Linked DNA regions of Homo sapiens. The protein of the gene in region 1 interacts with the protein of each later gene in a pairwise test. Each region holds a gene or a part of one and is shown on either strand. Other genes may lie near its edges.

Region 1 (7,026 bases):
TCCAGTTCATTCATCCTTAGGCAACCTGGTGGCCCCCTGCTCCCAGGAGGTCACCATATTGATGCTGAACTTAGTGCGGACACCCGGTTGGCATAACGACCAGCTGTTCTAAAGGTCTCTTCCAACCCCTCAATCCTATGCTGCTAACAGTCCCCCCTTCCTCCTGGGGCTCTCTCCTCTTCCTCTGAGTGGTCTCCTGTACCTTCTCCAGGGAGAGCCACGAGGCTTAGCTGGGTCTCTAGCTGTTGGTTCTGGTGGCTGGCAGCTTCTAGGTGCTCCTAAGGGGACGGGAAACAGAGTGAGAAGGCACGGAGGTTGCCAGGTCATCCCCCTCGGGGCCCCGTCCTCAGCAACTCCCTCCCCTGGGTCTCCTGCAACTTTTGTCCGGCCATCTCAGCCACCGCTTTGCCCCAAGCTTCCTGCTGCTGCAGCTGGTCCACGAACTGGGTCTGCAGCAGTAACTGCCTGTGCAGCGCCTCCTTCTCAGAGGTCAGCTGCTGATAGGTGGCCATGTACTGCTGCAGGTGACCCAGGTACTAGTCTCGCTGCTGCTGCAGACTCTGAGACTCTTGGCTCTTCAGCTCCACCTGCAGGAAGACCCTGGGCATGAGGGCACATGGCGGCTGGCTTCCAGATTCTGGGCCCATTAATAGGGTAGCGAGGGCACCGTGGGGCTCTGTCACCTGCCCAGGACCCTGGTCCCTTGCTCCAGGCCTAAGAGGCTTCCTCCCTTGCCTAGAACCCCATACCTCCTTCCCCAGCCTCAAATCTCATGTCCTTCTTCCCACCATTTAAACTGTAGGCCACAGACTGGTGGAAAAGCAGAGGGAGCCAACCACCATCTGCTAAGTGTGCTACATGCCTAATGCTTTCCAGGTATTCTCTCATTCAATCCTCAGCACCTCTGCAAGGAAAATGCTAACTTCCTTTTGAAGTCACAGAAACAGAGACTTAGAGATGAACAGTAGTTGAATGGTGACCAGTGGAACCCAGGCCAGAATCCAGTTTGAATCTAAGGAGGCTTTTTTGTTTTGTTTTGAGACAGTGTCACTCTGTGGCCCAGGCTGGAGTGCAGTGGTGCAATCTCAGCTCACTGCAGCCTCCACCACGTGGGCTCAAGCGATTCTCGTGCCTCAGCCTCCTGAGTAGCTGGGATTACAGGCATGCGCCACCATGCCTGGCTAATTTTTTGTTGTTGTTGTTGTAATTTTAGTAGGGGTGAGGTTTCGCCACGTTGGCCAGGCTGGTCTCAAACTCCTGACCTCAAGTGATTCTCCTGCCTCAGCCTCCCAAAGTGCTGGGATTACAGGTGCGAGCCACCGTGCCTGGATAAGGAGCCTCTTGTACCACTGTCTCTTCCCCTGTGATTGGGGGCTCCATGTCTCTAGCTGGGATGATGATGTCCAGACCTGGGAGGAGCCCAGGGCTACCCACCTCTAAAAGTCAGAGGGCAGGAAGCAAGAAACAGTCATAGAGCTGCACTGGAGGGTGCTGGGGTCACCTGCCTCCCAGCTGGAGCTGCCTTTGGCCTGGCACCTCCCCTCCCCAGAGGCTGGTGCCCGCCTCCCAGCCCTTCTTGGATGGGGTGGAGGTTACCATCTCCTTCACCTCGTCTAGCTTCTCCTGCAGCTCCTTTACTTGCTGCTCCAACTGCAGTGCGCTCTTTTTCTCGTTGTTCTGGACAGAGAGAAGCAATCAGTGGCCATCCACTGCAGCTGGAGACACCAGACCTTGGTGTCTGCCTCCCATATCACCAGGAAGGGTGGAGGCAGGTTAGAAAAATCATCCCTTCTCCCCCACAGCCATCAGAGCAGAGCCCGATGAGCTGTAGCTCACAGGTGCCTTTAGAAGTAGCATTTCATGTGAGGGCTACACTGGCCCATTTTACAGGTGGGGAAACAAAGGCCTGGAGGGATAGGGATGAGGGCAGGCTCCCCAGGTGGGGCAACCCACCAGATCCTCGAAGCTGCACTGTGGCTCGGCCAGCTGCTTGTCGAGCTTGTGGTTCTGGGAGAGCGCGAGCCTCTCCTCCTGCTTTTGTAGCCTCTCCTCCTTCTTCCACAGCCTCTCCTCCTGGTCCCACAGCCTCTTTTCCTGCTTTTGCAGCCTCTCCTCCTCCTTTCGCAGCCTCTCCTCCTGTTTGCGTAGCCTCTGCTCCTGCTTTCGCAGCCTCTCACCCTGCTCCTGTAGCGTCTTCTGCTGCTCCCGAAGCCTCTCGTTTTGTTCACACAGTCTCTCCTGCTCCCGCACTCTCTGCGCCTCCTGCTCTCGGAGCATCTCCTCCTGCTCCTGGAGTCTCTGCTTTTGTTCCTTGCTAAGGAGACTCAAGGCCTGATTGTTTTCCACCTGGGACTGGAGCTTTCCCTCCAGACCTTCCACCTCCTGCCTCAGGTGTTTGGCCTCATCTTGTAGCTGTTCCACCACAGAGGTCACTGCTGGGGGCGCCAGGGATGGGGGCTCAGCTGAGAAATGAAGCAGACAATAAGGGCCTCTGGATTCCCCAACCCCTCTACCCACATCCCCCTCAAAAAAAAAAAAAAAACCTCCTCTTGATGCACAGCTCCTCTCAGGCTTCCCAAACTTGGCCTCACTGCTAATCATTCCTCGCACCCAATGGTAGCCAATTTCCAAGCCACTTTCACATAGAGAGCACTGTGGGTGGCTGACAACGGGCACTCCTCCCTCTTTGCTGATGGGGACCCTGAGGCTCATGGAGATGACAAAACTTGCCGTCTCCTGGCACAGACCTCTTTCCCTCTGCCTCAAAGCCCTTCCACCCACCCACCTCCCTGGGGCATTCTAAGCCACCCCCACAGACCTCTGATGCCAGTCCTGCTCCGAGGTCACACCAGCCCCATCTTACCCATCTGGTTTTTGAGTTCGGACAAGCTCCTCTCCAGCTCCTGTATCCGATGTATGTCACGCTTCTTCTCTTCCTTCAATGTTCGAGCCTGCCCAAAGCACAGGGGAAAGGGCCCTGGAGAGAGGGGCTGGTGGCTGGACAGGCTACCATCTCATTCTCTGTCCCCATCTCCACAAAGCCCAGACCCATGACCACCTCTGGCTGTACTATTCCCATTTTACAGATGCCCAGAAAGATCCAGTGACCTATCTAAAGTGGGGGCTGAAGGGTCAGACCTCACCTCCACCGACATTTTCCACATCCTCTCCTGCCACCGGGCCCTCTCTCCTTTTATGTGTTTAGCATATTCGTCTCGCTCTAGCTGGACTTGTTTTAGTGACTCTGTCACCTGCAAGAAATGGGCACAGAAGTTAGGAAGGGCTGTCACTGGTCCTCACCTGCTCCTGGCCACCTGGGGTCATCTTCCTTCCACATCCCTCCCTCTGCAAAGCCTCACCTGTGTCACGTGTGCGTTCAGCAGCGCCCGCTCCTTTATGGTCTGCTGTAACCACCGCTGGAGGACCGCTTCTCTGCAGCTCGAGGACTGGATGGTGAAGAGTGAGAAGTTTTGATCTGGGGAGCTCAGGCAGTGCCCCTTAAAAGGGCTAGGCTCAATATACAACTCGGTCAGTAAAGGTCAAGGCATTTCCAAGCCCGTGGCCTGGTTATTAAAAGAACTCAGTAAAGTTGGAAGGGAGAGGGAAAGAGATAGAATTTACAGCTGGCTAACAGAGGCCCAGAGAGATCAGATAATATTGCTATTGTTATTACTGTTATTACTACCACTGTTTGAACCGTTATGGAGTGCTTCACCAGGTTCCATGCTAGCAATCCCATTTAATCCTCACAACCACCATATGAGACGGTTACTAGGATTACCTCTATTGTGTAGATGAAAAACATCGAGTGTTCAAGGTTAAGTGCTTGCCTAAGATCACTTAGACAGAGCTGGGATTTGAACACCCAGGTCTATCCTATTCTCTAAGCCCATTTTTCTTGCTGGGGGTGGGGACACAGATAGGAAGGGGGAAATTAATCTTTTGTTCACTTTTTGAAAGGATGATACATTCATATAGTCCAAAACTCAGAAGGTACAGAAGGGAGGTGTCTCCAGGCACCCTGTTACTCTCTCCTGAGTTTTTTATGAATGCTTGCAGACATGTTTTTGTATATTATCATAGTACACACACACACACACACACACACACACACACACACACCCCTTTCCTCTCTCTACAGAAATGGTAACATACTAAAGGTGCTCTTCTGTACCTTCACAGAACAACTACCCAATACCCCACCTAGGACTTGGCCAAGGCCACAGCCAGGAAAGGGCAGGGCAGGCACTTGGCCTCTGAGCTCTGCATCCAGTGCTCACTCCCCACAGTGCCCCCCAACTCACCCACAGCAGCTGACTCAGCCCCAGGCTGCCTCTAACAACCATACACAAAAGTAGTGAGAAATGACCATGCTGCCTTCTGGGCAGGACACTCCATCCTGCAGAAGGGACCTTTAGGCTCACTCCTCTATCTGGGAAGCCAGGCTGCCAGGGGATGGGGCAGCTGGTTGGACTCACCCTGTCCTCTTCCTGCTGCTGTGTAGACACAGCACAGAGAGCCCGCTCCAATTCTTGAATACGCTGTAAGGAGTATTGCAGGCGGCCAGCCAGATCCTTGGACTCTTCTGTAATGAGAGAGGTTGAGATGGGGCCCAAAAGACTCCCCCTAAAGACCTGTCAAAGTGCCAGGTTGAAGGATGACGGGATGCCCAGATTCCCACCTTCGAAGTGTCGGGCAGCACGTTTAGTATGGTAAAGGGTGGTCTTCAAGTCTGCCTTTTCCAATGTGAGGATGTTGATTGTCTGGAATTGAACGTTTGGGAGAAAAGCCAAGGAAATGCTGAAAGAGAAGGAAAGAAACATTCTCCAGAGGACAGGAGAAAGCTCCCCACCCTCCACTCACCTCTAACCGCTCCATTTGTGCTTTGTGTATTTCATTGTTTGTTTTCTTTGCCTGTAGGAAGAGGAAGACAGAGCTCTTATCACAGGGAGGCAGAGATGGCACAGCAAGAGACATGCCCCCAGAATGCCACCAATGCCCCAGGACAGGCCCACCCATGGGACCAGGTTATCAGGGACCCTGTGGGGATGGGGTGGAATCTGATGGGTGAGCCTTCTTCCCCAGGCTGGGAGTGGGCAAGATGAGACTGGCGCCTCTGCATCTGAGTGTCCCCCAAACCCAGCAGTCATGTTGTGAGCAAAGAAATCACGTTACTTCTTCCAGCTGATGTTCCACTTGTTTCTTCTGCTGTTTCTGTGGGGAGAGTCAAATTCAGGTGACTGAGAGTGGCCCCCTCAACTCTATTCCCCAGACCTGGAAGCGGTAGGCAGGGTCCAGGAATGGATTTTAAAGGCAACATTCTCAGAACCAATGGCAACACAAACTGGTCAACCCTCTTCAAGCTCCCAAGGACAGAGGACTTGGGTCTTTGTTGGTTTTTGCCCACAGCCACAGAACTCGAAGTCTGAATCTGGATTCTCTTGAAAGGACAGTAACATAAACCCCTAGAGAGGGAGTCTCAGGAAGGCCCACCCTTCTGCCAGCTTGTGATTTAGAAAGGTGCCTTCATTCAACAAATATTTACTGAACACATACGGGCCAGCTACGGTTCTTCACAGCAGATATAGGATGGAAAAGGACAGACAGGAGCCCTTGGCCCTCAGGTTTCCATTCTAGGGGCCTTTAAATCTCAGGCTCTCAGAGCTAACAGAGAACTCTGATGCTCTACCTCCTCCAGAAACACAAGCCCAAGGAGGACAGGTGGCTTGTCCAGACTCAAAGCAAATTAGGGACTGAGTCAGGGCAGAAATACAGGGCCCCTGACAACCAGTCAGGCTAGCGCTTCCCTGAGAGGTGACAACCTCAGGGCGTGTGTGGCAAGGACTGGAGCAGGGGTGTCTGGAGAAGAGAGAGTCGGCAAAGAGGGCAGTGACAGAAGAGCCATGCTGCGTGCTCCTTGCTCTGGGGTCCCTCCAGGTGAGGCCTGGGTGCTCCAGCTCCCCATTTGCCCTTGGCACCAGGGGCCCCCAGCCCCTTTCTTCAGGGCCCCAAGGGGAAACTAAAGCCCAGGATTGGCAGCATGGAATCAGGGGACCCCACTGGACTTACCAATGATTCTATGTTTTCATTGAGTTGACTGATTGTCACTGAGCTTGACTCCAGGGCTACTGCTAGTTCTTGGTACTGGCTCTGAGGCACATGCAGAGAGGAGGAGTTGGAAGAGGATTGTGGGGAGAGGTAGAGAGAACAATCATTAGGGCTGGGGTGTGTGTGGGCTGTCTCAGCTGGCAGAGGGTCACCCAGCCCCCACTGTGAGAGGAGGTTGGAGGGCTGGCCTGCAAAGTCACTGCACCTCAGCCCAGGGCCTCTTACTTCCAGATCCTTCAGGGTAACAGATGATGCAGGAGTAATAAAAATGAGAAATTAAAAAAAAACTTACATGGGAAATAGTTATGTATATGGAGAAAGTATAAAAACAGCAAGGAGCCGGGCACAGTGGCTCACACATGTAATCCCAGCAGTTCAGGAGGCTGAGACAAGTGGATCACTTGAGGTCAGGAGATCAAGATCAGCCTGGCCGACATGGTGAAACTGCATCTCTACTAAAAATACAAAGAGTAGCCAGGCGTAGTGGCAGGTGCCTGTAATCCCAGCTACTCAGGAGGCTAAGGCAAGAGAATCACTTGAACCCGGGAGGCAGAGGTTGTAGTGAGCCGAGATCGCACCACTCCACTCCAGTCTGAGTGACAGAGTGAGACTCTGTCTCAAAAAAAAAAAAAAAAAAAAAAAAAAAAAAGAGCCCAAATCCCACGTGCCTGCTCTGTACGTTATTCCCAGATTACTTTTAAACTTTTAGGCGTCACCATTTCCAAGATAATAAAAGACGCGGGGAAGGAAAAAACCCAATCAATCAAGCAGGTGAAGAAGCAGACAGAAACAGGCTGAAGGTTAATGGCAGCAACATAAAACAAGGCAGAGGCCAAGCATCCCCCAAGCCAGAGAAGCCTCAGGGCCATGCACAGCTGTAGACAGCAAGCCAGAGAGGGGTCTTGGCACTGCCTCACC
Region 2 (7,151 bases), on another chromosome or scaffold:
AGCACTTTGGTAGTCCAAGGCAGACGGATCATGAAGAGATCGAAACCATCCTGGCCATCATGGTGAAACCCGGTCTCTACTAAAAATACAAAAATTAGCCAGGCATGGTGGCGCACACCTGTAGTCCCACCTACTCGGGAGGCTGAGGCAGGAGAATCGCTTGAACCTGGGAGGCAGAGGTTGCAGTGAGCCAAGATCATGCCACTGCCCTCCAGCCTGGCAACAGAGCAAGACTCCGTCTCAAAAAAAAAAAAAAAAGAGTCTCGTAGGTTGCCCAGGCTGGTCTCAAACTCCTGATTTCAAGCAATGCTCCCACCTCAGCCTCCCAAAGTGCTGGGACTACAGGCATAAGCCACCAAGTTTCATATTTAGATTTGGGTCCCATCCCCAAGTTATCTCATTATGTATATGCAGATATTCCAAAATTCAAAAAAATCCAAAATCCAAAAAACTTCGAGTCCTAAGCATTTCAGATAACAGATATCCTATTCTTTCCTGAAACTAAATAGATAGCAGCAGAAAGATATAATCACTTCCCTTCGAGTGTAATCAACAATCTTCACAACACATCCTGAATTCATCCACCTGTCTCCATCCCACTATGACCATTCCTGGATTACATCAGCTTCATTACTTGCCTGGACTGCAAGAGCTTCTTAACCAGTCATCTTGTTTCTGTTCTCTCCCATTCTCCTCACTGTAGTGGGAGTGATCTTATAAAAAACGTACATCATATCACAAACCTTCAAATAGTTTCCCATTGCAGACAGAATAAAATCCAAGTCCTTATCATGACCTAGAAGACTGTATGAGCTGACCTACCACCACCCATCCTGACACAAACTTCACCTCTCACCATTCTCTCTCCTACAATACTCAAGCCAGAGTTGCCTTCATGCAGTTTCTCAAACCCATCAAGCTCAGCCCACCTGGAAGACCTTATGCCTGGACACTTTCTCCAGATCTCTGCATAACTTATTCCTCATCATCATTTAGATCTTAGGTCAAATATCAATTCCAGAAAGGTTTTCCCTAATTACTCAACCCAAATGAATCCATTCCTTCTCTCCTCTACTGTTATATCATACTCTTATTTTTCTTCATACTTATTTAAAATCATGTGGCCTATCATTAATTGTCTATTGTCTGCCTCCACCACTGAAATGTAAGCTCCAGGATGGAAAGGCCTTTAATCTGTTTTGTTTCGAGCTACACCTGAGCACCAGAACGGGACTTGGGACATGATAGGCTCTAATTCACTACACTTGATTGAATTAACTAACTAACTATCCCTGTTCTAACAAATACATATGTGCTATACTTAATTTAAAATCCTATCCAGAATGAAGGGAACAGACTAGCACCCTCTGCAAATTTTATTGTATTATATCCAAGACCCAGCCTGCAGAGACTCTGATTTTAACAGTTTAGCAGAACTCAAAATTCTACATTTTTAACAGGCACCCCAGATGACTGTAATGAAACTGTCTGTAAAACACACTTTGAGAAATATCCATTTATACACTCTTTTTACACTAAAATGTCTTTAACAATGAAATCAAAGTTTACCACCATCTCCATGAACAGCAACACCATTATCTAATCCTTTTCCTCTTCTCTACTTCACTCCTTTATTCCATTCCTGCACCGACCCCACCCCAAGATAACGGAAGTATCCTCTCCCAAGCTGCTTAGGACATTTACCACAAATGAACCTAGGAAAAGACAATTCTCATAAAAAATTACAACCAATTTCCTTTTGTCCTGCAATCAACATGGCTGCAAATTAAGAGTTTTAGAGAAGGGCTTATTGATTGGTTTTAGTTGTTAAACCAAACATTCAAGAAGTTGTTTGGTTTTATTGTTTGGTTTTGTTTTCCTCTGGACTGAATGTTTTTAGAAACTTATTTTTTCATGGCAAAATCAATACATGTAAGTTGTTAAAATTCAAATAGATACATGTAAAAAAAAGAAAGTACAAAATTACCCCAAAGAACCTCAGTGATAACCACTGATTTGTATACCTTTTCAGATTTTTTTCTGTGCATATACAAACATATATACACAAATAATGTTTCTAATATAGAACCAGAATTGAGAATCTCTGATTTCAGCCAGTCACAGTTAGGGAATAAAATGAAGTTAATCCAAATCAGCTGGAACACTCTAAAAAGTGTTACTATTTTAATGTACCCAAGAACAAAGAAATTTCACCAGTATTTAAATTTGTGCGTTAAACACCTTTAGGCAAGTTACAAGCCTGTCATAGTTCTAATATTTAAGTTACAGGCTGCCTTAGAACGAAGAACTGAGTTCCTGAGGTGTAAGGAAAATCATGGGTTCTTAAAGGCAAAGAGCCAAGCAACTAGTTAACGCCTCCCTACCAAGTCCAAAAGACTAGTCTTACCTGTGGACTATGTGGAGTCTGGACCCCTCTGCATCAGACCCCAAAGTGGAATTACACAGGTTGAAAGAAATCAAAACTGAAATCCTAAGGGGAGTAACCAGGACACTTGCAGTGCAGGTCATTAGCGTGATTGTTGCCAAATTCAAAGCAGAAAGGTGTTAAATGGCTTTTGTAGGGATCAAAACAACATGTGACAGTAGTTCATGCAGATCTGCCACACACATGTATATGCTATTCGCTATGGATGAATCGAGAAAACAACGTCCTCTCTAAAAATGTACATGAACAGTTAGGAGCAACAAATCTTCTTCCATACAGGACTGAAATTAACCGCAGTCAGGTCGGCAGCAGGAGGTTCCAACGAGGCTCCCTGGCTGGCTGCGGCTGCACCCTCGAGGGTTGTTATAGTAACCACACAGACGCACGCAGCTTCGCGTGTGTGCCGAGGAATTCACGGGCAGTACATAAACTGGACTCCCTGCTTCATTCGGAGTAACAAAAACACATACAGAATTTAATCTACGGCCCCACCTGCAATTTCTGCAAGATCGGCTTGACTTCTTCCTCTTCATCAGCCATCATCTCCCGGCCACTCCACCCCCAACTTTATAACCACAGAGACGCACGCCCTCTCTCACCGCGGAACCACAGCGACATCTGGCGTTCTGGAGGCTTTTCTGCCCCAGAAGGGCTTTGCTTCAAACCGACTTAACCATTTATTTCCACAGAGATGCTCTACAATCACTTGTGAGTTCATAAACTTCTTTCTTTCCCAGATCCTGGAAACAAAATGTCCTCAGCTTAATTTCTATATTCTTGTTTCATGTCTTCCTACTTATTTATACTAAGATTATAATACTCCATAAAGAAGAGAGTTTAAGAAGTGCACACCTGTGTTGTTTGAAATTTCGAAAGCCATGTAGTACAATAGCTACTTTACTCAATCTTTTCCAAACTTTGCAGTAATTTTCTATGTATGATTAATTTTATCATTTTAATGCACTATCTTAATAAATACTACACTTGGGATGGCTCATAAAAACCACCATGCTCTACACTAACAATGCCTCCATATTTATAGACAACATCCAGAAGGATATATAAGAAAGGATGACTGTCTCTGCAGAGGGAAACACAGAAACTGGGGAACTGTGGGTGAGCGAAGAAAATTTTCACTGCCTGCCCTTTTGAATTTTCTTGCCATCTATATGTATCACCTATTCAAATATAAACATTTTTAAATAAAAAATTATTTGCTTCTACATAGTCTCTGGAAAGAGACACAAGACACTGGCAAGACTATCGCTTACAAAGAGCAGAAGTGAGTGGCTGGAGCAAAAATGAGTGACCAGGGAACTGGGGTAGACTTTTCACTCTATGCCTTTTTTGTAACTTTAAAGTTTGTACCTTGTGAATATATTAAACTTCTGAATAAATCTTTTAAAGTGTCATGTAATATTCCTGGCAGTTTTGCTTTACTTTTTTAGTTTTAATTACAGCTTCAAGCTGATTCTGTGAAACTAACAAAGAAGTAAAACGTTCAAGGCAGAAATCATGAATATACATAAAATCATTTCCTCAAATCATTTTCCAACATAAAGGAAATAGTTTGTATTGTAACCTATAAAATCTATGTCGTTAGCTGTAAAATAGGGAGGGATGTTTTAAAAATTTTTTTTTGAGATGGAGTCTCACTGTGTAGCCCAGGCTGGAGTGCAATGGCGCCATCTCGGCTCACTGCAACCTCGGCCTCCCAGGTTCAAGCGATTCTCCCGCCTCAGCCTCCCGAGTAGCTGGGGCTACAGGTGCATACCACCACGCCCGGCTAATTTTTTGTATTTTTAGTAGAGACGGGATTTCACCGTGTTAGCCAGGATGGTCTCGATCTCCTGACCTCATGATTCACCCGCCTCAGCTTCCCAAAGTGCTAGGATTACAGGCGTGAGCCACCACACCCGGCCCTAAAACTTTAAAATTTTTCATCCTCTTTCTCAGACATTTTAACTTTGGTGCACACGAGGCTGGGCACGGTGGCTCACACCTGTAATCCCAGCACTTTGGGAGGCCAAGGCGGGCAGATCACTTGAGGTCAGTTCAAGACAAGCCTGGCCAATGTGGTAAAACCCCATCTCTACTAAAGATACAAAAATTAGCCAGGTGTGGTGGCATGCACCTGTAATCCCAGCTACTTGGGAGGCCAAGACAGGAGAACCACTTGAACCCAGGAGGCAGAGGTTGCAGTGAGCCAAGATGCTGCCACTGCACTCCAGCCTGGGCAACACAGCAAGACTCCATCTCAAAAAAACAGTAATAAATAATTTTGGTGCACATTAAGAATAATTTTTAAGAGATTTTATACTCTATATTCCTAGTGAAGGAAACACTACTTGCTTTTCAATTATGTAAAGCAGGGGTATTTAATTGCCTTTCTACAATGACTAAATATATCTTCAAATGATTTCAGTATAATTTTTATTACCTAAAAAACAATGGGATTTGACATTTAGGGTAATTCCATTGTTAACACATCTTAAACCATTAAGAATCAATCCTAAAATTTAAGAGTTAGAAAAGGCTGTAAGGATAACTTAATTCAGTCCTTCATTTTACAGATACAGAGACTAAGTCCAAGAAAGTTCAAACTAAGTAGAAACCAGAACCCAGATCTTCTGCCTCTCCAGCCAGTATGCTTTCAAATCTTTCCTCTAACAGGACATAAAGTTACTGAGAATGTCCTTCAAATTTCTATCATGGCTCTACATTTTAAATAAATAAATGCATAAACAATTTAATTCCCATAATAATAGTCAGAAATACTCACTAAATAAAGGAAAACAATAAATAAATCTTTTATTTTAATACAATCTCGAGATCAATAACACATTGGTAAACTTTCTGCAGAAGTGCATTCCTAAATAAGTAAACCCAAGGCAATAGTTGACAAAAAGGTAAAGAAGTAGCTTTATTTTAAAATACAGTCTTCCTTTGGTATCTTTGGGGGATTGGTTCCAGGAACCCTCATGGATACCAAAATCCTTGGATGTTCATGTCACTTTTATAAAATGGCATGGTATTTGCATATAACCTACAGATTCTCCCAAATACTTTAAATCACCTCTAAATTATTTATAATACCTACAATGTAAATGCTATCCAAATAGTTGTTATATAGTATTGGTTTTTAATTTGTATTTTTTTATATTATTTTTTCTCAAATATTTTTGATATATGGTTGGCTGAATCTGCAGAAGCAGAACCTATGGATACAGAGCACCGACTGTAAATGCCAAAAAAATTAACTTTAAAAAATAACTTCATCAACGTGAGTTATTTTTAAATACAAATAGGGACTGAACATACATGCATCAAATTGTACTCTCGTTCACTGACATAAGCACACCTCCAAACAATACGAAGGTAAATACATAAATATATACAAATAAATACACACACCCAAATAACAAGCTACACATCACCCACCATTTTCCAAGACCAAAATTTTCACATAAACATACTGGCAAATACAGCAAAATATCAGTGTACATTAACATACTTACATATACAGATATGCATAAATACCAGAATTCAAAGCAACATGTAGCATATAACACAGGTACTTAAGGCATAAACACCACAGCTCAGTGAGAAACAGCACAGGGAGAAAGAGTTATCTATTGAAACAAATACTATTGTGACCTTCTCACACTAGGGATGAAAATTCAGCAGTTCACAATGGAATTGAGACTAATAAAATGCTTATGCTTTAAATAATAGAAACAAAGAAACCAGACTCTAAACCACTCCCCACTGCCAATGAGTTTGTTATGTTGATAATGTGAAAACAACTTCAGAGACTTAAAAGCACAGAGAAGCTGGGGAGTCCTATCTAGAAAAAAGATTTGCTACCCTGCCCCTGCCCCTGCCTCTGCCTCTGCCTCTCCCTCTCCCTCTCCCCTCTCCCCTCTCCCCTCTCCCCTCTCCCCTCTCCCTCTCGGTCTCCCTCTCCCTCTCTTTCCACTGTCTCCCTCTGATGCCGAGCCGAAACTGGACTGTACTGCTGCCATCTCGGTTCACTGCAACCTCCCTGCCTGATTCTCCTGCCTCAGCCTGCCGAGGGCCTGCGATTGCAGGCGCGCGCCACCACGCCTGACTGGTTTTCGTACTTTTTTGGTGGAGACGGGGTTTCACTGTGTTGGCCGGGCTGGTCTCCAGCTCCTAACCGCGAGTGATCCGCCAGCCTTGGCCTCCCGAGGTGCCGGGATTGCAGACGGAGTCTGGTTCACTCAGTGCTCAATGGTGCCCAGGCTGGAGTGCAGTGGCATGATCTCAGCTCGCTACAACCTCCATCTCCCAGCCGCCTGCCTTGGCCTCCCAAAGTGCCGAGATTGCAGCCTCTGCCCGGCCGCCACCCCGTCTGGGAAGTGAGGAGCGTCTCTGCCTGGCCGCCCATCGTCTGGGACGTGAGGAGCCCCTCTGCCTGGCTGCCCAGTCTGGAAAGTGAGGAGCGTCTCTGACCGGCCGCCATCCCATCTAGGAAGTGAGGAGCGCCTCTTCCTGGCAGCCATCCCGTCTGGGAAGTGAGGAGCGTCTCTGCCCGGCCGCCCATCGTCTGAGATGTGGGGAGCGCCTCTGCCCCGCCGCCCCGTCTGGGAGGTGAGGAGCGTCTCTGCCCAGCCGCCCCGTCTGAGAAGTGAGGAGACCCTCCGCCCAGCATCCGCCCCATCTGAGAAGTGAGGAGCCCCTC
Region 3 (7,026 bases), on another chromosome or scaffold:
TTGTTTTAAATTCTTAATTTGTTAATGACATGCATAATCACATAGTACATAGACTGTGTTCATGGCAATTACTTGTATTCTTAGAATGCCAGTTTTTGCTTCATGCAGCCATTTATATTAGAGCAGTGGTTCTCAGCCAGGCACATTTTTGCCCCCTGGGGATATGCAATATCTGGAGACATTTTTGGTTGTCACAGCTGGGGAGAGGGGTACTACTGGCATCTAGCAGGTAGTGGCCAGGGATGCTACTAAACATTCTACAATGTACAGGACAGTTCCCTTCCCCAACCCTCAACAAAGAATTAGGTGGCCCAAAATATTAATAGCACTGAGGATAAGAAATCCTGTACTAGAAGTTGTAAGTTTTTCATCCCCCATGGGCTAGATCTGATATGCAGATGTATTTTATTTTGCCCATACAATATTTCTAAGTAATTTTTAAATTAGTTGATAGCATACAAATTTCTGGCTTGATGAAAATGTAGTTGATGTAGTAACTCTGAGCCTATATTCCAGCAGGATTTGATACTTTCCAGTGTCTACTATCTCCTACTGTCTACACCCACTCCATGGACGCATTTATGTTTCTGCACTAGCCCCTTATAGGCATTTGGGCCTGTGCTCTCTTTTCTGTACCTAATTCTCTAAGTGTGAGGCACAAAGCAGGAACCCTTAACTTTAGGCTACCATCCCTCCACCTGAGCCTCCCCACTTTGATTTCCTTGAACTATTCTCTGTTATCTGCTGCTCTTTTTTTTTCTCAGACAGAGTTTTGCTCTGCTGCCCAGGCTGGAGTGCTGTGGAGTGATCTCAGCTCATTACAACCTCTGCCTCTTGGGTTCAAGTGATTCTCCTGCCTCAGCTTCCCAAGTAGCTAGGATTACAGGCACGTGTCATCACGCCCAGCTAATTTTTGTATTTTTAGTAGAGGTGGAGTTTTGCCGTGTTGGCTGGACTGGTCTCAAACTCCTGACCTCAGATGATCTGCCTGCCTCAGCCTCCCAAAGTGTTGGGATTACAGGCGTGAGCCACTGCGCCTGGCCTGTTAATCTGCTACTCTTCATTTGTCCATCCTCTAACAGTAGCCATGACTCAAAACCCAAGTTTTCCCTGCCTTGACTCAAACCCAAGTTAGCTGCTTAATATTTTTCAAAAGCAGTAATTTTAAGTGTAGTGATTAAGCAAGTGATACGAGATTTTCTGGTGACTGATGAGACAGCTCCTCCAGTACTTTCCTGGGGCTTGCAGGCTGTTCTAGAGATCCTTCTAAACCCTGCTCTGGATCTCTGATGCTGAGTTTTGTAGTTTCTTGGAACCTGCAGAATAAATTAAAACATGAAAAACAAAAAAAATTTTTTTTTCAGACAGGGTCTCACTCTCACCCAGGCTGGAGTGCAGTGGCATGATCTCAGCTCACTGCAGCCTGGACAGCCCAGCTGAAGCAACCCTCCCACCTCAAGCAATCCTCCCACCTTAGCTTCCCAAGTAGCTGGGATTATAGGCACGTGCCACTGCACCCAGCTAATTTTTTTTTTTTTTTTAACTTTTTGTAGAGACAGGGTTTTGCCATGTTGCCCAGGCTGGTCTCAAACTCCTGGGCTCAAGCGATCCACCCACGTCAGCCTCTCAAAGTGCTGGGATTACAGGCGTGAGCCACCGTGCCCAGTCTGAAAAAAGAAAGTCTTAAAGCACTGTGTAAGGTTTAAGAACGGTCTCTCCCAGCACTTTGGGAGGCCATGGCAGGTGAATCACGAGGTCAAGAGATCAAGACCATCCTGGCCAACATGGTGAAACCCCATCTCTACTAAAAATACAAAAAATAGCTGGGCGTGGTAGTGGACACCTGTAGTCCCACCTACTCAGGAGGCTGAAGCAGGAGAATCGCTTGAACCCGGGAAGCGGAGACTGCAGTGAGCAGAGACTGCAGTGAGCCAAGACTGCGCCACTGCACTCCAACCTGGCGACGGAGCAAGACTCCGTCTCAAAAAAAAAAGTCTCAACATTATTACTATTTTATATGGGATGTAAAGGAAAATTTCTAGGGGTATAAAACTGAGATAGGAATTAGGGTAGGGGCTGCTAGGATTTAAGATACAAAACAATTGAGAATAATGGAGAGAAGATACTATTTTCTCCCTTTGACTCAATATCAAAATGGGTTATGGAGGGCCGGGCGCGGTCACTCACGCCTGTAATCCCAGCACTTTGGGAGGCTGAGGAGGGTAGATCACGAGGTGAGGAGATCGAGACCATCCTGGCTAACATGGTGAAACCCCGTCTCTACTAAAAATACACAAAAATTAGCCAGGCGTGATGGCGGGAGCCTGTAATCCCAGCTACTCGGGAGGCTGAGGCAGGAGAATGGCGTGAACCCAGGAGGCGGAGCTTGCAGTGAGCCAGAAATCGCGCCACTGCACTCCAGCCTGGGCAACAGAGTGAGACTCTGTCTCAAAAAAAAAATACAAAAAATAAAAAAAAAAAGGTTATGGAGAAGGTGATACTAATGAGCTACCTTTAAGGAATGCTAGAAAAACAGTTTTATAGTTTTATAAGAAGTCAAAATATACATGATTTTTCTTCAAAAATAAAGTAGAAATAGTTTCAGCTCATGAAATTGGAACTGGAATTGGAAAATGATCTGTTTCAAAATGGAAGAAAACGAAACATAATTTGTCAGATTTTATTCACAACTGCATCACTCTCTAAATTCAAATGTGTTACTTGGAGATCTCTGGATTACTTATTAATGTTACATAAATACAGGATTATGATCTCAAAATACCAGTGGCTATTCTAAAGTTTCCTCCCAGTGGTATTACTGGGTATGACAATTTAGAGAGCTGCAGAATGACAGCAACATTTCAGGTTACCTGGGAAAATCCTTGATTTTGGTCTCTTTCTCTTGAACAGCCCGGGTGCCTTGACCCTTGTTTCTCACAAAGTCTTCCTCCAGCCCAGCCTGCTTCAGGGTGTCTAGATACCACTGTTCTGCTTCTTTCTTGGCTAGATCCTGTGGGATGGAAATTAATCTGTTGTAGCTGTCTTATGAATTACCAGACAATTCTAAATTACTTAATCAGTATTGTTACAATACTGCCACAACCACCACCACCCTTATTGTGGGGCATAGATTTGCAAGAAAATTATTTAACCCTTGTTTTCCAGCCTTAATGTGTATATAAATCACCTGAGGTCTTGTTAAAATGCAGATTTCACATTTGGTAGGTGTCAGATGAGGACTGTAATTCTGTATTTCTAACACTCCCCAGAGATGCCAAACTGTTGATTTGGGAGTCACAATTTTGAAAAGCAATGACTTAGACTTTTGGGAGACAAATGAGACCCAGATTTAAAAGGATGGACTAAAAACCTAAGATTTTAAAGCAACAAACCATTATCAGGAACACTAAAATAAAATAGAAAATAAGCTACACCAAGACTCTTAGTGGAAGGACAGATGGTCTGCATGTGGACCAGCAGAATATTATTTTTTGTTTAAGTATTCAAGAACAAAATCATAGAGTACTTTGTATTTTTCCTAGAGAGGTGAAAGATCTGTTGAGATCTGAAGAGTGAGCTTGCTTAACATTAACATAAAGAAGCATGAGATTTTGAACAATGCAGGTTGCTAAGTAAATCCAAGACCATGTGTGCTTATGTGTGTGAGAGGAGAAAGATTTATGGAGGGAGGAGGAAGTGGAGCCAGCAAATGCCTAGACAATGTACTAACTATAAGATGGAGCTAATGCCCTGCCATTGGAACTAGGTCACTATGGAACCCCAACTTGTCTGAAACTGGAGAGGAAAGAGATCCACAGAGCCTAATGCAGTAGAAACAGAGCATCCTTACATCCTTACGGAGATCTCAGCTGAGTCCAACATCCCTAAAAGTCTACAGAGAATATCTTAAAATGATACTCTTCCAGGATACTTCGGGTACACTGCCTATGGGTTAGCCCTGCTCCATAAGGAACACACACTCACACACACATACACATGCATACAAAATAAAAGAAGAAAAAAAAATTTCAGGCTTCCAGCCTGAAAGCCACTTAGTCTAGAGAAAGCCTTGCAGGGTGTTTGTGGGCATCCTAATGCTTGGAGACCTATAAATATACCACAGCTCTAGAGGCTGGGGAGGCCCAGGGCCAGCAGCACTGCCAGAGGAGAGATACCTTTCCAGCACTGTGAACAGTGGCTCCAGAGCATAGAAAGAGCCAAATGGTCCCTGTGTCTCTGGGGTCTAATGCCCAGTCTGATGAAATCTGAATGGTAGACTACAGTGAAAGCTCTAGGAAGTGAAATATCCCTTTATCGATGCCTTTGGAGTCCACTCTTGGATGAAATCAACACAAGCAGCATTCTCTATTGTACTATTTATTTTGGGAAAAGAAGGTAGTAGTGAAATTAGAATTTCTGGGCCTCAAGGAAAATTTTAATACCCACATATTAAAATTGTTTTGTAATTTTTCAGAGTCCTTTTATCTAAGGCAGAAAGAAAACAAATGATGGTTTAGTTTTACCTTGGCAACTTGTTCAAAGAGATAGGGCCTTGTTTGTATTCGCTGCTTCATTTCCTCCAGTTCTTTCTTATATTCTTTCGCTCTTTTACGGTCATTGTTCCTGGAATTAGCAAGACTTTTAGAAAGAATTTCATCTTTTCTAATCCAGAATACCCTTCATTTCCAGTAAAGCAGTGTAACTCTCGTGTACACTGTAAATTCCTATCTGACTTGGAAAATCATGACCCTGCTGTGATTACAGGAGCCTACCTACCTCGATAACTCTATTTTGCATTTTCTGGCAATAGGCCAGTGGTCTGTTGGATCCCAAGGCAAGCACCCCTTTTGACACATAGAGGACACTGACCGGTTCTCTTTCAGCTTTGCTTTGAACACTTCCTCCAGGCTTTTATGGGGATCCATGGCTTTTGCACGCAAGGTCACAGATTTGGACATTGCTTGAGACTTCTTTTTGTGTATCTCCAGCCACTGAATACTCTCATCTGCTTTGTTCTTTTTTTCAAGTGCACTTCTAAAGGAAGGAGGCAGAAAAAGAGTATAGATTACCAACCTGGGTATACTGAAAAGCAATCTTAGGCCAGGTGTGGTGGCTCACACTTGTAGTCCTAGCACTTTGGGAGGCCAAGGCAGGTGGATCACCTGAGGTCAGGAGTCCAAGACCAGCCTGGCCAATACGGTGAAACCCCAGCTCTACTAAAAATACAAAAATTAGCTGGGCATGGTGGTGTGCACCTGTAATCCCAACTACTCGGGAGGCTGAGGCAAGAGAATCGCTTGAACCCGGGAGGCAGAGGTTGCAATAAGCCAAGATCGCACTGCTGCACTCCAGCCTGGGCGACAGATCAAATTCCGTCTCAAAAATAATAATAATAATAAAATAAAATAAAATAGCCGGGCATGGTGGCTCATGCCTGTAATCCCAGCACTTTGGGAGGCCGAGGCGGGCGGATCACAAGGTCAGGAGATCGAGACTATCCTGGCTAACACTGTGAAACCCCATCTCTACTAAAAATACAAAAAATTAGCCGGGTGCGGTGGTGGGCGCCTGTAGTCCCAGCTACTCGGGAGGCTGAGGCAGGAGAATGGCATGAACCTGGGAGGCGGAGCTTGCAGTGAGCCGAGATCGTGCCACTGCACTCCAGCCTGGGCGACAGTGAGAGACTCCGTCTCAAAAAATAATAATAAATAAATAAATAAAATAAAGCAATCTTAGTAACCTTTTCTGGAAAGTAAGTTGGTGTTTTTAATGAATGGGGCATGTAATTTACCTCAACTGCCATTTTTAAAAATAATAAAATTCTAGGATTAAATGCACTGGCAGATGAAGCCTTTCCAGCACTAGGGACACAGTGAGTTCCTACCCTAGAAGTGCATTTACTGAACTGGAGAAACGTCAGTTAAAATATCCTTACTTAGGTCGGGCACGGTGGCTCATGGCTGTAATCTCAGCACTTTGGGAGGCTGAGGCGGGCTGATCACAAGGTCAGGAGTTCGAGACCAGCCTGGTCAACATGGTGAAACCCTGTCTCTACCAAAACTACAAAAAAAATTAGCTGGGTGTAGTGGCACGTGCCGGTAATCCCAGCTACTTGGGAGGCTGAGGCAGGAGAATCACTAAACCCGGGAGGCAGAGGTTGCAGTGAGCTGAGATTGCGCCATTGCACTCCAGCATGGGCGACAGAGCAAGACTCTGTCTCGAAAAAAAATATATATATCCTTACTTAAACAGTCCAACATTCAATAGGTCTTCGCCTATCTGGATACAAAATAATACTAATAGCTACCATTTACTGAGCTCCTTATTATGAACCAAGTACCATTACATTTCACATTGTCCTCATAACTGCCTTATGAGGTAAATACTAAATTCCCTTTTTATAGGGGAGGTGATTGAGGCTCAAAGGAGGTAAGCCCCTTGCTCAAAGCTACCCAGCATGCCAGTGGAAAAGCCCCTATTGGACCAGGACCTCTGACTCCGAAGCCTCTGGCCTTGACCACTCTGCTGGAAACAGTGGGCTGGAAGGTGTCTGGGTTCATGGTCCTTTGGGAATACAAATCTGCACATTCAGAGAGAACTGGAAATGAGCCTCCCTCAGTGCAGACTATTTGGGTTCAACTTGTAGCACTTAGTTTGTTCAGTTATCTACAAAGTAATATGTTGAGTTCTTCCAAAAGGAAAATCAACCAAGACTCTTATATTTGGATGTTTATATTCAAATGGACATACTGGGAAGAAGGACATGAAAATTTAATCTGTTAATATGTCAGATTCCCTGTGGCTGGAAAGCAGATGTGGATGTCCTCTATAGGAAGGCCAGCCTCTTTGTTCAGGAGGCCTGTGTTCTTGGGCCCTCAGGATACTGAGCAATTAATTAGCCCTGATTTAGTAGGTCTAACTGAAGTCTGAAGAAGAAAGGAGTATCCCTTGGACCGTAAATACTCTTCTACAATCCCTGCTGTGGGGCTTAACGATCCAAGTAGGTTCTGAGTACTCCCCTACATG
Region 4 (7,026 bases), on another chromosome or scaffold:
ATACCAGCACTTTGGGAGGCCAAGGCAGGCAGATCACTAGGTCAGGAGTTCGAGATCAGCCTGGCCAATATGGCGAAATCCCGTCTCTACTAAAAAGTACAAAAAATTAGCAGGGCATGGTGGCACACACCTGTAGTTCCAGCTACTGGGGAGGCTGAGGCAGGAGAATTGAACCCGGGAGGCAGAGGTTACAGTGAGCCAAGATCGCACCATTGCACTCCAGCCTGAGCAACAGAGTGAGACTCAGTCTCAAAAAAAAAAAAAAAAAAAAAAAGGTGATACAGTAGCCCAAGGAACAGAGAGCAGATAACCTGGTGATACTAGGAAGTCAACAATTAAGAGAGATGTCAACTTTAAGAAAAAAAAAAAAGAGCTTTTTAACATCAAGTTGAGCTAGTCGTAATCTTTAACTACCAGAATTCAGAAGATTAAAGTTTCTATAGTGGGAATGTAAATTAGTACAACCACTATGGAAAACAATTTGGACGTTCCTCAAAAAACTAAAAATAGAGCTACTACATGATCCAACAATCCCACTGCTGGGTATATACCCAAAAGAAAGGAAATCAATGTACCGAAGAGGTATCTGCACTCCCATGTTTGTTGAAGCACTATTCATAATAGCCAAAATTTGAAAGCGACCTAAGTGTCCGTCAACAGATGAATGGATAAAGAAAATGTGGTACTTACACACAATGGAAGTACTATTCAGCCACGAAAAAGAAGATCTTGTCATTTGCAACAACATGGATGGAACTGGAGATCATTATGTCAGGTGAAATAAGCCAGGCACCGAAAGACAAGAGTTGCATGTTCTCACTAATTTGTGGGATCTAAAAATTAAAACAATTGAACCCATAGAGAGCAGAAAGATGGTTACCAGAGGCTGAGAAGGGTGGTGGGAGGGTGTGGGGGATGTGGGGACAGCTGATGGGTACAAAAAATAGTTATAAAGAATGAATTATCCAGCACTTTGGGAGGCCAAGGCAGGTGGATTGCTTGAGCTCAGGCACTCGAGACCAGCTTGGGCAACATGGTAGAACCCTATTTCTACCAAAAATACAAAAAAGTAGCTGGATGTGGTAGTGTGCATCTGTGGTCCCAGCTACTCAGGAGGCTGAGGTGGGAGGATCACTTGAGCCTGGGAGGCGGAGGTTGCAGTGAGCCGAGATCACACTACCACACTCTAGCCTGGGTAACAGAGCCAGACCCCATCTCGAAAAAAAAAAAAAAAGAATGAATTAAGACCTAGTATTTGATAGCACAGCAGGGGGATTATAGTCAGTAATTTAATTGTGCAGTTTAAAATAACTAAAAGAGTACTTTGAGGGGCTGAGGCAGGCAGATCACTTGAGCCCAGGAGCTTGAGACCAGCCTGGCCAATGTGGCAAAACCTCGTCTCTACTAAAAATACAAAAAAAAAAAAAAAAAAAAAAAAAAGAGCTGGGCATGGTGACATGCCTGTAATCCCAGCTACTCAAGAGGCTGAAGCATGAGAATTGCTTGAACCTGGGAGGCAGAGATTGCAGTGAGCTGAGACTGTGCCACTGCACTCTAGTCTGGGCCACAGAGGGAGACCTTGTCTCAAAAAGAAAAAAAGAAAAGAATATAATTGGATTGTTCGTAACACAAAGGATAAATGCTTGAGGGAATGGATACCCTGTTTTCCAGGATGTGATTATTACACACTGCATGCCTGTATCAAAACATCTTATATACCCCATCAATATATACACCTACTGTGTACTCAGAAAAATTAAAGTCTTCACAGTCACAAAAAAATAAAAAAGTAATTTTTTAAAAGTTTCTATAGCAGTAGTTGGTGCTAGTGTCAGCTGAAGAAGAGCTTCTAATGTTCATTACTTTTCACTAAAATGAAAGCACTTTGACCAGTATGGTATGTAATTCTCAAGGATCATTCAGATTTTTTCCCACATAGCTATTTTTGGATTCCTTTTGATCCTATAAAATGTGCGTTTACTTAGTGTTTCCTAGTGATTAAATATCCTTTTAAATTTACCAACACGTTGCTCAAGAAAGAAAACATATTTTGCAGTGAGGATTCTCAGTCCTGGTTGTACATTAAAATCACCTGAGGAACTTTTTTAAAACATTGATGCCTGAGCCCTACTTCAGAACTGTTCAATCAAAATCTTTGGGTCTGGGCATCTGAAATTTTTAAGGCTCCCAAGGTGATTCTAATGCATAATAAATGTTGAGGACTATTGATTTAGATGATAAAATTATAGATTTGAAATTTATTTTTAAAATTTGTCTTCTGTTGCAGCAATTGACATGTGGTCTGCAGGTGTCATATTTCTTTCTTTGCTTAGTGGACGATATCCATTTTATAAAGCAAGTGATGATTTAACTGCTTTGGCCCAAATTATGACAATTAGGGGATCCAGAGAAACTATCCAAGCTGCTAAAACTTTTGGTAAGCAGTTTTGTATTATAGAACCAAACAAAATGCCTTTGATTATCTCCTACAAATCACTTAATAAATTATTGTGAAATTTTCTTTACAAATAAACATTCAGTCTTGATAAAGTTCTCTAATATTAAGTAGAAAATTCTTCAGTTGCTTGAAAATAAATTTATCACCTCTCTATACATATAATCATTTAATCTTATTAAGCACAAAGTAATACACTGTTGCAGTATTTAAAGTTTACCTTTATAATTTTATAAGAATAAGGAGTAAAATCTTAACTCCTTTTAGTTATGGTTTGACTTTTATTACATAAATTTACCTTTTATTAAAGGCATGTTTTACTTTGTAATATGTTTTACTTTTTTATTGTCTTTTAAACATCAGATGCACTATGTCTTGGTACTTAGAGTGTCCTTGCCTTAAATGATCTTAGGCTATACTAACAAGTAAACAGTTAATTATTAATACAGTGTAATAAGGACTAGGGAAGAGAATGGAAATGTGTGTTGTCAGGTTGTGTAGGTTTACGGTAGCAGAGAAGCAGAATGCATAGAAGGCCTTAACTGATGGGATATTATTGTAAGCATATATTGGACTTGGATGTCATCTCCTTAGCCACGCAAGTTCTTCAAGACTGGGATGTGCAGTGTACTTCATAGGGCACATAAGAATTATCTCAGCCTTGCTCTGGCCAACAATCTGAACTCAAGTGCCCATTTAATGTTTATTTTCCACGCTCAGTTATAGTTAATACTTTCCAAGGAATAAGTGGGATTGACTCAGCTTACTACCATACAATACAGAACACCTCAGGAGACAAAGTTTCAGCCAGCCTACCTCAAGAGTAGCTGGGCTGTCTTGTGCTCAACCCCAGGATCAGTGGGTCTTAACCAGAGTTGCATGTCAGAATTATCTGAGAATCTTTAAGAAATACATATGCCTGCCCACTCAGCCTATTCTTGGAAAATATGATTCAGAAAAACAAGATACTTAGGAAGGCTCCAGCCTTGTTAGTTTGAAAAAGCAAGTGATTCTGACTAAGAAACTATGGGTGTTTAAGAACCACTGCAAAAATTACTGCCCTTGCTTATGCACTAGTGCTATAGTCTAATCTACAAGAAAAACTTAGTGGTGGTTGTGAAGAAAGCCTCATCTTAATAGAGGCTTGCCAAAATATGTTTCTACAGTAAAGTCAGTCCACGATTTGTAACTATCTTGTACTTATTGTAAGAAAATTTTATTTGAAGATAATAGGATGAAATAATACAAGGGAAAAAAAGTGACCATGAGTGGAAAGCAAGATTGATATCTTAGAAATGGCATTCTTACATAATAATATAACAAGTATGTTTATTCTCAACTGAGAAAACTTTCATCTACTATTGAATAACTTCGTGAGAGGTTTATGAACATGAAGTTTATCAGCCAATACCAACATATTTTATTGAAGAGCTTGAATCTCCCCCATTGTAATCCAAGTTATAATCAGGGCCAACAATGGAAATACAACATCTGACCCAAAAATACTCTAGATCAAGTGCCATGATAGCAAGCAAGAGCTTTTAGAGATTTATCATTGTAATACTTCTCATATTAAAAAAAAAATAGGGCCAGCCGTGGTGACTCACACCTGTAATCCCAGCACTTTGAGAGGCTTAGGTGGGCAGATCATGAGGTCAGGAGACCGAGACCATCCTGGCCAACGTGGTGAAACCCCATCTCTATTAAAAACACAAAAATTAGTTGGGCATGGTAGCATGCACTTGTAGTCCCAGCTACTCGGGAGGCTGAGGCAGGAGAACCAGCTGAACCTGGGAGATGGAGGTTGCAGTGAGCCAAGATTGCACCACTGCACTCCAGCCTGACGACAGAGCAAGACTCTGTCTCAAAAAAACAAATAATAAAAATAATGCCATAGGACTTGTCTCAGTTGTATTAGTATGACATCTGTAGTTATTTTAGTCTTGATCTTACTATAACTTTGGACTGAGTATAAAAGCCTCAAAATTTCAACAAACACAACTGTGTTCCCCTTTGTAACCTAAAGAAATGACTTGGCTGAGATTAGCAGTGAGAGCACCTTTACTTCTCTTATCTGTCCTCAACCCTTAAACCTGGCTCCATTGTGGGTTGTCATTAAGTACTCAGTGAATTGTGTTGAATAAATTAAAAAGAAAAGTCTTGAGCTGAAACAAATTCCTGACACATAGTAGTCTGTAATAAAATATGTTGACTGATAGTGTTACTTGAAGTTATTTTTCCTGAATATTGTAAATGAACCCTCTTTTTGGTCATATAAAAAAAAGCATATTGTATAACTTGGGGACATGCTATAACATATACTATTAGTTATTTTATGACTTCAGAACAAGCTAATAAAGGAATAAAACTATATGAATATTCCCCCCTGGCTATAATTTTCTAGAGAGAATAGGAATGATAGAATCAGTTTAAAAGTAAAAAAGCATTGGCATATTGTACTCTCAAAGAATTTGGTCTTCAGTAATTGTTTGTTTCCTCCCTTTCCCTCCCCCATTTTTTTCCCTGGCTTAGTACACCAGTCCAGTAGTTAGTTCAGAATATGTAAAGGTAACTTTTTATCATCCACAGTCAGATTAATGACTTTGTTGACAATCTACATTCTCAGAAAGGCATCTAAATGTTGTGGTACTTGTTGTTTCGTACATTTAGTATATTTCTGTTTAATAAGGAAATGTAAGGCAAAAATAATACATGATTGCCATTTGTGTGATTAACTTTTTTTTGCACATCTGATAATAAACCCATCAGGAAGTTATTTCAAATACATTTATATTTTTAAAAACAGATCTAGTTTGTTTATTTGTTCATTCAGAAACATTTATTGGGGCTTTATGTGTGCCAAGTACTATTGCGAGTCTCTGCTTTCACAGAGCTTAAATTCTAGTGAGGGAGAGAACATAAATAAATACTATGAGAAATGAGTGGTACTGAGATAAAAGGAAAAGGGGAGGGAAGAGGCTTATTTAGGATAGGTTGGTCAAGAACAGCATCTCTAAGGATGTATGTGTCATTTGAACAGTTGTTGAAAAGAATAATGCCTTTTTGTCTAGTCCAACAGACATTAACTGACTACCTAATCTGTACCAGGCATAGGCTGGGTTTGGGGGGTTCAAAGATAAATAAGACAGTTCCTGCCTTCAAAGAGCTCAGTCTACTAGGTGGGACAGACATATATAGGATAGCAAAAGTAATAGTAGAACTCTCAAGATACAGTAGAAACTGAAATTGATCAGTTCTCTCTGAGGGTGTCAAGCCTCAGAGGTGATTCTTGATCTGAGTGGTGATGTCAGTGAGAGTGTCCTGGGCACACAAGGGGTGCAGGGCATCCTAGGCAAAGACAGGAGTCATGTAGTCAAAGACATAGAAGCATGGAAAGGAAGTAGAGTGGGGGCGTGGGAGCTGCAGCTAGTTAAAGATTATAGAAGGGTAAGATGAAGCTTGAGAAATTGGCAGAGTCAAGTGAGTGCCTGGCATAGCTTAGTAAGTCACTGCTTTGTACTTACTATCTCCCACTTTATCTCCCACTATGCAATTCAAATACAACTTAAATATAGCATGTGGTGCTCTATCTCATACTGTGTGTGTGTGTGTGTGTGTGTGTGTGTGTCCATGTCTATAAAGCATATGTTTGAACTTTCATGTTTCTCATGAGAGAGGCTTCTGATATATTCAAATAATAAAATGTTTTTTTCTGTTTTTGTTTTTTCTTCTTTTGCTTTTAGGGAAATCAATATTATGTAGCAAAGAAGTTCCAGCACAAGACTTGAGAAAACTCTGTGAGAGACTCAGGGGTATGGATTCTAGCACTCCCAAGTTAACAAGTGATATACAAGGGCATGCTTCTCATCAACCAGCTATTTCAGAGAAGACTGACCATAAAGCTTCTTGCCTCGTTCAAACACCTCCAGGACAATACTCAGGGAATTCATTTAAAAAGGGGGATAGTAATAGCTGTGAGCATTGTTTTGATGAGTATAATACCAATTTAGAAGGCTGGAATGAGGTACCTGATGAAGCTTATGACCTGCTTGATAAACTTCTAGATCTAAATCCAGCTTCAAGAATAACAGCAGAAGAAGCTTTGTTGCATCCATTTTTTAAAGATATGAGCTTGTGATAATGGATCTTCATTTAATGTTTACTGTTATGAGGTAGAATAAAAAAGAATACTTTGTAATAGCCACAAGTTCTTGTTTAGAGACCAGAGCAGGATTAATAATTTATTTTAACATTTTAGTGTTTGGTGGCACATTCTAAAATATAGATTAAGAATACTTAAAATGCCTGGGATAGTTCTTGGGACTAACAACATGATCTTCTTTGAGTTAAACCTACCTAAGTAGATTTTAGGTGGGTTCCTATTAGGTCAGATTTTTAGCTTCCCTAATTACCTTTCACTGACATATACAGAAAAAGGAGCAGTTTTAGTTTTAATTAATTAAAATTAACAGATGTGATGAGGATTAAATGAATCAAAAGACTTAATTTGTAGATTCTTTTAGAGTTATGAGCTAGGTATAGTTTGGGGAAACTCAACCTGGTGCTGGTGC

What was found.
Region 2: the proteins of GOLGA6A (region 1) and TTC5 interact in binary tests that used the Homo sapiens proteins (3 or more experiments, as listed by UniProt).
Region 3: the proteins of GOLGA6A (region 1) and FAM161B interact in binary tests that used the Homo sapiens proteins (3 or more experiments, as listed by UniProt).
Region 4: the proteins of GOLGA6A (region 1) and CDC7 interact in binary tests that used the Homo sapiens proteins (3 or more experiments, as listed by UniProt).

The regions. Positions count from the first base shown.
Region 1 is NC_000015.10:74,072,540-74,079,565, forward strand, and holds part of GOLGA6A (golgin subfamily A member 6A), read right to left. Parts: intron 6,151-7,026; coding exon 6,070-6,150; intron 5,215-6,069; coding exon 5,176-5,214; intron 4,915-5,175; coding exon 4,864-4,914; intron 4,764-4,863; coding exon 4,682-4,763; intron 4,586-4,681; coding exon 4,479-4,585; intron 3,447-4,478; coding exon 3,360-3,446; intron 3,252-3,359; coding exon 3,144-3,251; intron 2,952-3,143; coding exon 2,864-2,951; intron 2,463-2,863; coding exon 1,954-2,462; intron 1,678-1,953; coding exon 1,609-1,677; intron 279-1,608; coding exon 203-278; intron 1-202.
Region 2 is NC_000014.9:20,302,949-20,310,099, forward strand, and holds the start of TTC5 (tetratricopeptide repeat protein 5), read right to left. Parts: upstream 3,004-7,151; 5' UTR 2,990-3,003; coding exon 2,939-2,989; intron 1-2,938. UniProt on the Homo sapiens protein: Cofactor involved in the regulation of various cellular mechanisms such as actin regulation, autophagy, chromatin regulation and DNA repair.
Region 3 is NC_000014.9:73,933,079-73,940,104, forward strand, and holds part of FAM161B (protein FAM161B), read right to left. Parts: intron 5,035-7,026; coding exon 4,870-5,034; intron 4,624-4,869; coding exon 4,524-4,623; intron 3,011-4,523; coding exon 2,871-3,010; intron 1,317-2,870; coding exon 1,178-1,316; 3' UTR 1-1,177.
Region 4 is NC_000001.11:91,517,843-91,524,868, forward strand, and holds part of CDC7 (cell division cycle 7-related protein kinase), read left to right. Parts: intron 1-690; exon of another isoform or gene 691-833; intron 834-2,287; coding exon 2,288-2,437; intron 2,438-6,198; coding exon 6,199-6,593; 3' UTR 6,594-7,026. UniProt on the Homo sapiens protein: Kinase involved in initiation of DNA replication. Phosphorylates critical substrates that regulate the G1/S phase transition and initiation of DNA replication, such as MCM proteins and CLASPIN.